3 separate regions of the Homo sapiens genome follow, and all the other regions are linked to region 3. Evidence: fine-mapped expression QTL. A gene starts in region 3. Each other region holds a variant in brackets. All regions are shown on one strand. Distances are from middle to middle. Region 1 overlaps INAFM2 (InaF motif containing 2). Region 2 overlaps EXD1 (exonuclease 3'-5' domain containing 1). Region 3 holds the start of RAD51 (RAD51 recombinase).

What was found. PIP is the estimated chance that this variant, and not a neighbour inherited with it, causes the effect.
Region 1: its variant is fine-mapped to the expression of RAD51 in whole blood (TOPMed, PIP above 0.99).
Region 2: its variant is fine-mapped to the expression of RAD51 in lymphoblastoid cells (GTEx, PIP above 0.99).

Annotation. Positions count from the first base shown.
Region 1 is chr15:40,324,547-40,327,196 of GRCh38, forward strand. INAFM2 (InaF motif containing 2) reads left to right here. Exons shown (of 1, transcript NM_001301268.2): 1 at 1-2,169. Among named protein-coding and RNA genes, the nearest start is that of INAFM2, 2.2 kb to the left of the region's middle. The variant G/T (reference allele first, on the strand shown) is at 1,295.
Region 2 is chr15:41,206,105-41,208,604 of GRCh38, forward strand. The region is part of intron 7 of EXD1 (exonuclease 3'-5' domain containing 1); the gene reads right to left. Among named protein-coding and RNA genes, the nearest start is that of EXD1, 23 kb to the right of the region's middle. The variant G/T (reference allele first, on the strand shown) is at 998.
Region 3 is chr15:40,693,621-40,696,465 of GRCh38, forward strand. RAD51 (RAD51 recombinase) reads left to right here and starts at 1,554. Exons shown (of 10, transcript NM_002875.5): 1 at 1,554-1,805. It overlaps RAD51-AS1 (RAD51 antisense RNA 1), which reads right to left and starts at 1,485. Exons shown (of 2, transcript NR_040058.1): 1 at 1,392-1,485; 2 at 114-1,175. RefSeq lists enhancers at 544-723, 606-1,203, 1,084-1,233, 1,704-1,763, 1,801-2,398 and 1 more.

The DNA.
Region 1 (2,650 bases), 370 kb before region 3:
CATTCTCCCCAAGCCCAGAGGCAGGACTTCGCAGCAGGATGGGGTGGAGAGCCCGCGGGAGTGACCCCCACGAGAGTGAACGCCCCTCACACTCCCACCATCGCCGGCTGGCCCCGGAGCGGGAGGCCCGCAGCCAGATCTTCAGCCAAGGGACCACGATTCGCCGGGGGGCTGGGGGTTTGCTGCCCAGGACCGTGCTGCACCAGGGCCCTGAGCCGTAGGGGGATGGGGGGAGGGGTGGGGAGATCCCGGCACCAAACCCTTCTGCGCCGCTCGCTCTGGTGTATCCTACATGCAGGGGTGACTGGGGCTTTCCCCCAAGACTCAGGGGAAGGATGGAGCTGTAGGGGCTCTTTTTAAGTAAGCTGAAGCTCTCGAAAGGAGGAGGGCACCAAAAGTAGTGGAGCTCAGGTACGTCAACCTAGTTGCAGTGGCCAGAGATGCATTAAATTTCTAGATCCCTGTATATAGTTGTTGACATATGCACTAGAAGCTATAATCACATAGAATTCTATGTATATCCTCCCACACCCTGGGTAGCTACTGACTGAAGGGGTCAAGCAAGGGCTATTTGCTGTCCCCCAAAAAGTACACCTGGCCAGAAGGGCACAAACACGGCTTCTTAAATCACTCACTTTCTCCTGTTCCCCTCCTGTTTCTGAAATATAAGTTTATGACGTTCTTTCACAAAAGAGTATAATCATTCTTAGACTGTTGACATGGCTGTGGAAAGCCTTAGGAGAAGTAGAAACAATTTAGGGAGGGTGGGGAATGTACTCATCCCCTCTTCTTTCCATCCTAGTGCCCCCACCAAAGAGGCTTCTTGTTGCAGCCCTCAGTATCTGGATATGGGCCAGGGAGGAAGGAAGGGAAAGAGCAATGCTGCTGTGCTTCAATCCTGGCCTTCCCCTCACAGAATTCTTTTAGGAAGAGCAAGCTTTTGTAAGTAGAGTGGCAAGTGTTTTTATCTTTTTTTTTTTCCTGCTCCTCAAAATGTTGTCTTGTTCCGGCAATCACTTTTGCCTTCCCTCTTTCCTGAGCCTGTAGTGACAAAGCCCGGCGATTTGGGATGAAATCTGTTGTAACACCAGAGCTTTGATTACACATCCTCTGGTTTTGAGTTATTCTACAGAATCAGAAAGGCTGGAAGGTGGGCTTCACACTCAGGATTGTGCTTTGAGAACCAGCTAATAGACCAGCCGAGGGAAGGTTGAATTGGCTGTCTTTACTTTTCCCGATAAGCCCTACTTAAATGCAGCCTGTAATTGTATAAAGGAGATGAGAAACATCAAGA[G/T]AAATGACATACATGTAGCTCTGGGGTAGCAAGAACTAGACTTCCTCAATTTGGATTCCATTTCCTTCTGCCATTTGCTTTTAGGCAATTGAGTGTGGGTAGTGATGAGATATCAAATCCCTTAGTGTTTCCATTTTGGGAAATGAGGCACTATTTTTTTTTTTAAAAGACAACTTACCCACCTGAGTCCTGAAACAGTTTGTCTCTCCAGTTTTCTGGCCTATACTCTAGTTAGCTCTGATCCAAGTTTACAGGACAACAGCCTTGCTTTAAGCCATGTCCTGTTGTGGGCACGATAATAGCAACTGAGCTGTCACAGCCTACCAGCAGGCTGGTAACACCTCCAGGGTCTCTTGGCTAGAGCAGATTTCTTAGCAGCTGACTAGGACTTCAGTCATTGGGAAGCCTATGAGGCCTTTACATTTTTGGTGTGAGATGGGGAAGAAACATAAAATGCCACTTTACAACTTCAATAATAGCCTGTAATTTATATTTACTGTGTGAATTTTTAGTCCTATATTTTAATAATTTGTAAATTGATCTCTTATTCCAAGAATCCTTTGAACTTGTAGAACATCTGGGAGTCCACTTCCCTGTCCTCTTCCTGATCCCTGCTTTCTGGACTGTTTAAATCCTCTTTGGGATGGATCAGAGAGTCTAGAGAGGCCACTCATAGGTCCAGCTGCTGGCCTCCTGACTCTCCAAAGCCTTCACTGGAATTGGGACATTTGCTCCAGCCCTAGCTGTGAACATGACCAGAGACATTATTTATAATTCAGCCATTTAAGATATACCTGTACTCAAAAAGTCCTGTATATTTTTAAAAAGTTTTATTTTTCAGGTGAACAAAAATACATCCTAAGAACTCTGCCTAAGCCTGTGTAAGTTGATCATTTCTCTTACTGTGCTTCGTGGGGACGGAGTAGAGGTTGGAAGAGTAAGTGGTCTGAGGTGTGATGGATGGATGGTGATGAATAGGTTGAGGAGGAAAAAGCAATTGCCCTGCTGTTCTCAGTGCCTGATGGCTTGAATGAATTGATTAGCGAAGGGCGGCAGAATCCATCTTAGTCGGGAAGCAATCCCGGGGTGGAAGAACAGTGATCTCTAGCTCAGCCACCTTTTGCCAACCTTAAACAGGCTGAGAAAAAGTTGTGCTTTACCAGAGCAGATGCCTAGCTGACAAAGCTAAGGGACCAGTAAGCATGAATATTAAGATTTACTGCAAACATTTAGCTGGCTAAGCACTGAGGTGAGGATAAGCTGCCTGATAGCATCACTGTCCTCACCTTTCAACCATTGGCCTCTAGATAACTCAAGAAGTGCTAACACCAGAAAGGCAAGTGTACATCTGTGGTG
Region 2 (2,500 bases), 510 kb after region 3:
CACAATAAAATTGAATAGATTATGTGTAAAACTGATAAATCAAGAGAAAGCAATAAGCATGTTATTAGAAACAGGAAAATCCGGGCCAGGGGTGGTGGCTCACGCCTGTAATCCCAGCACTTTGGGAAGCCAAGGCAGGCAGATCACTTGAGGTTAGAAGTTCAAGACCAGCCTGGCCAACATGGTAAAATCCTGTCTCTACTAAAAATACAATAATTAGCCAGGCGTAGAGGTGAGTGCCTGTAATTCCAGCTACTTGGGAGGCTGAGGCAGGAGAATACCTTGAACCTGAGAGGCAGAGATGCAGTACAGTGAGCCAAGAGATTGCACCACTGCACTCCAGCCTGGGCAACAGAGAGACCCTGTCTCGAAAAAAAAAAAAAAAAAAAGAAACAGGAAAATAGCAGAAACTACATTTCAATGTGTTAAAAGTAGTTGACTCCCCTAATGTTTGTCAAAGTATTTTGTAAACTGTAAAGTACTGCACAAATATAACAATCCTGTTATTCAATTCTTTTTTTTTTTTTTTTTTTTTGAGAAGGAGTCTCGCTTTGTTGCCCAGGTTGGAGTGCAGTGGCACAATCTCGGCTCACTGAAACCTCCTCCTCCCAGGTCCAAGTGATCCGCCTGCCTCAGCACCATTAGTAGCTAGGATTATAGGCATGCGCCACCACGCCTGGCTAATTTTTGTATTTTTAGTAGAGGCGGGGTTTCACCACGTTGGCCAGGCTAGTCTCAAACCCCTGACCTTGTGATCTGCCCACCGTAGCCTCCCAAAGTGCTGGGATTACAGGCATGAGCCACTGTGCCTGCCCTATTCAACTCTTTTTTTTTTTTTTTTTTTTTTTTTAAGTAGTGCCTCTGCGCCAGGTGTGGTGGCTCACACCCAGCACTTTGGGAGGCCGAGGCGGGCAGATCACGAGGTAAGGAGTTCGAGACCAGCCTGGCCAACGTGGTGAAACCCCGTCTCTACTAAAAATACAAAAATTACCCGAGC[G/T]TGGTGGCGGGAGCCTGTAGTCCCAGCTACTCGGGAGGCTGAGGCAGGAGAATCGCTTGAACCTAGGAGGCAGAGGTTGCAGTGAGCTGAGATTGTGCCATTGCACTCTAGCCTGGGCGACAGAGTGAAACTCCGTCTCAAAAAAAAGTAGTGCCTCTGGCAGGGTGTGGTGGCTCATGCCTGTAATCCCAGCACTATGGGAGGCCAAGGCGGGTGGATCACCTGAGGTCGGGAGTTCGAGACCAGCCTGACCAAAATGGAGAAACCCTGTCTCTACTAAAAATACATTAGCTGGGAGTGGTGGCACATGCCTGTAATCTCGGCTACTCGGGAGAGGCTGAGGCAGGAGAATTTCTTGAACCCGGGAGGTGGAGGTTGTGGTGAGCCGAGATCGTGACACTACACTCCAGCCTCCAGGCGACAAGAGCAAAATTTCATCTCAAAAAAAAAATAATAAAAAAAATAAACGTAGTGCCTCTGAAGTGGAGTGGAGGGTTTTTTTTTCTCTTAAATTTGATTTTTTTCTTTTGCTTTTAATACAAGTGCACGTGATGCTTTTAGTTAAAAAATTAAACACACAAGCCCAAGGATCTGGCTGGGGAAAACCTGTCCATTAATTTGCTTCCAGTTGCAGAAAGGACAGCTGTAGTCCAGATCCCAGCACTTTGGGAGGTTGAGGTGGGCAGATCACCTGAGGCCAGGAATTCGAGACAAGCCTGGCCAACATGGTGAAACCCCATCTCTACTAAAAAGACAAAAATTAGCCAGGCATGTTGGCTCATGCCTGTAATCCCAGCTACTCAGGAGGCTGAGGCATAAGAATTGCTTGAACCTGGGAGGCGGCGGTTGTAGTGAGCCAAGATTGTGTCACTGCACTCCAGCCCATGCAACAGAGCGAGACCCTGCCTCAAAAAAAAAAAAAAAGAAAGAGAGAAAACAAAAAGAAAGGACAGCTGTAGACAACTGCATGTTCCTCTGATACCCAGAAAACCAAAGGGGACAATTTAGGAAATAACCTAGAACTGCCCAGACCTGTGTTACCAGGAAGTCTACTCTCTTTTGTTTTGGTAGATGGAAGTTTAGGGTTGTTTTAAGTAATTTGTATTTGTGCTGCTAATTCAAACCTAGTCATCTAAAAGCTAAGCTTGGCTAGCTGCAGTGGCTCATGCCTGTAACCCCAGCACTTTGCGGTTAGGCTGACTCAGAAGGATTGCTTGAGACCAGGAGTTTGAGACCAGCCTGGACAATATAGGGAGAACTCATCTCTGAAAAAAAAAAAAAAAAAAAAAAAAGTAAAGGAAGAGGGACCCAAAAGCTATCCATCCTCTAGCTATTCTTCAAGGCTAACTACAAACTTTTAAAAAATATTGGCCAGGGGTGGTGGCTCACGTCTGTAATCCTAGTACTTTGGGAGGCCGAGGTGGGTGGATCACTTGAGATCAGGAGTTTGTGACCAGCCTGGCCAACATGGTGAAACCCCGTCTCTACTAAAAACACAAAATT
Region 3 (2,845 bases):
AGTGCAGTGGCCCATCATAGCTCACTGCAGCCTTGACGTCCTGAGCTCAAGCAGTCCTCCCACCTCAGCCTCCGGGATAGCTGAGACCACAGGCACAAGCCACCACGCCCAGCTTATTTTTTTTTTTTTTTTTTTTGAGATATGGGGTCCCACTATGTTGCCCAGGCTGGTCTCCAACTCCTGAGCTCAAGCGATCCTCCCCCACCTTGGCTTCCCAAAGTGCTGGGATTACAGGTGTGAGCCACCGTGCAGGCCTTATATGATCTTCATATCCTGAACTAAATGTAACCTTCCAGTTTCGGCACTTGCTCTGGCACTTTTCCTCCCTCGCCAGATAATACTAATCTTTAATCATGTAGTTCGTTTCCATGCCCATACTACCCTATTTGCTTATAATGTCTTCCACTTCGCCCAAGAATCCCTACTCAGCTAGCTTGTGGTGTTGTTTTGACACAGTCTCGCTCTGTCGCCCAGGCTGGAGTACAGCGGCGAGATCTCGGTTGGCTGCAACCTCCTCCTGAGTTCAAGCGATTCTCATGCCTCAGCCTTTCGAGTAGCTAGGATTACAGGCATGTGCCACAAAACCTGGCTAATTTTTGTATTTTTTACTAAAGACGAGGTTTCACCACGTTGGCCAGGTTTATCTCCAACCCCTGACCTCAGGTGATCCGCCTGCCTTGGCCTCCTAAACTGCTGGGATTACTGGCGTGAACCACCGCGCCCGGCCCTACTCAGCCTTTAAAACCGGAATCACGGGTCAAAACTTTCTGGTAAACCACGATACGGTTTAGGTTATGAAATTCAATGCCCCCTTCCTCTGAACTCCTGCAAATCTCCAGTAAAGCACCACAGATTGACGAATATTCCAGCCATTTCCCTCTCCCGTACGCTAGCTCCATTTCCCACTTCTATCCATCTTCTCGAGCTTCCTCAGCTCCTCCACCTCCATGAGGCCTGGAAAGCACCTTGCTCCAGGAATGCGAGTAGGAGGCTCAGAGCGACCAGAAGTGCCAAAAGCTGACATTCAGATACTGCCGAAACAAACCACAAGAGCGCTAGGGCCCCCGCTAATAGTCCAGCTGCGATGGTGAGAACTCGCGGACCCGCCGGCGATGCATGCCGGGAGATGTAGTCCCGGGCCGACGCATTACCTCTTGGGAGTCGTGGTCTTCGATCTGGTAAACAGAAGACGGCAACTCGGTTAAGTCTTCCCCCACCGCCCCCTGAAATCCCTCGCCCCACCCGCGAGGGACTGGGGTAGGAGTAGGGGCGTTGCCGTGGTTAGCCTCGAACTCCTAGGCTCAGACGATACTCTCGCCTCGGCCTCCCGAGCAGCTGGGACTACACGCGTGAGCCACCGCCCCCGGCATAAAGTTTGAATTAGTCCTTACGCAAAAAGGGAAGAGGGCAGTCTGTAAACTCGCGCAGGATCAAGCTCTCGAGCTCCCGTCTTGGGTTAGCGCGCAGGGCGGAAGCGGGGAGAAGGCGGATCCGGGAGGCGGGGATACGTTACGTCGACGCGGGCGTGACCCTGGGCGAGAGGGTTTGGCGGGAATTCTGAAAGCCGCTGGCGGACCGCGCGCAGCGGCCAGAGACCGAGCCCTAAGGAGAGTGCGGCGCTTCCCGAGGCGTGCAGCTGGGAACTGCAACTCATCTGGGTTGTGCGCAGAAGGCTGGGGCAAGCGAGTAGAGAAGTGGAGCGTAAGCCAGGGGCGTTGGGGGCCGTGCGGGTCGGGCGCGTGCCACGCCCGCGGGGTGAAGTCGGAGCGCGGGGCCTGCTGGAGAGAGGAGCGCTGCGGACCGAGGTGAGTGTGTGAGGCGCAGGCTGGGCCCTCCAGAGCCGCGGCTCGTCCTCGCCCACCTGCGTCCTGGCCGGTCCAGTGCTCAGCGGCAGTTGGGGCCTCCGCGCGCAGTGTGAAACCCGGACGTGGCAGGGCGTGTCCGCGCCCGACCGACCCTCAGCTGCTGGGGCGAAAACACAAGTGGACCTCAGTCTTTAGAACTAGGGGAGAAACATTAGAGCCTTTATAGGCAACACCTATTTTATGGGTTCGAGCGAGAAGTCCGAGATCAGAGCGGTGTAGCCACAGCTGTTTAATATCACAGCCAGGGCTTCCGGATTCCTGATCTGTCTTTCCATTACACCGTGCTTAGAAAGTACCAATCTCCGATTGCCAAAACAGTGTTTTCATCATCTAATGCGGAAAACCATTCACATGATGCCTAGAGAATGATCTGAAGTGAGGTTTGGTTTTCTTAAAACTTTTTTTTTGAGATGGAGTCTCGCTCTTCCGCCCAGGCTGGAGTGTAGTGGCGCGATCTCGGCTCACTGCAACCTCCGCCTCCCGGATTCAAGCGATTCTCCTACCTCAGCCTCCCGAGGAGCTGGGATTACAGGCCCCCACCACCACGCCGCCAGGCTGATTTTTGTATTTTTAGTAGAGACGGGGTTTCACCATGTTGGTCAGGCTGGTCTCGAACTTCTGACCTCAGGTTATCCACCCGCCTCTGCCTCCCAAAGTGCTGGGATTACAGCCGTGAGCCACAGCGCCTGGCCCCTGTTTTTTTGTTTGTTTGTTTGTTTTTAACTTCTAAAGCGCAATGTAATATACATGTAGAAAAATTCACATTCACAACTGTATACAACTCCGTGAATTATTACAAAATATACTGGCCGGGCGTCGTGTCTCACGTCTGTAGTCCCAGCACTTTGGGAAGTGGAGGCGGGAGGACGATTGAGCCCAAGAGTTCGAGAACAGCCTGGTCAAGATAGTGAGACCCGCATCTCTACAAATAGGAAAAATTAGCTAGGCATGGTGGCGTGCACCTGTAGGCCCAGCTATTC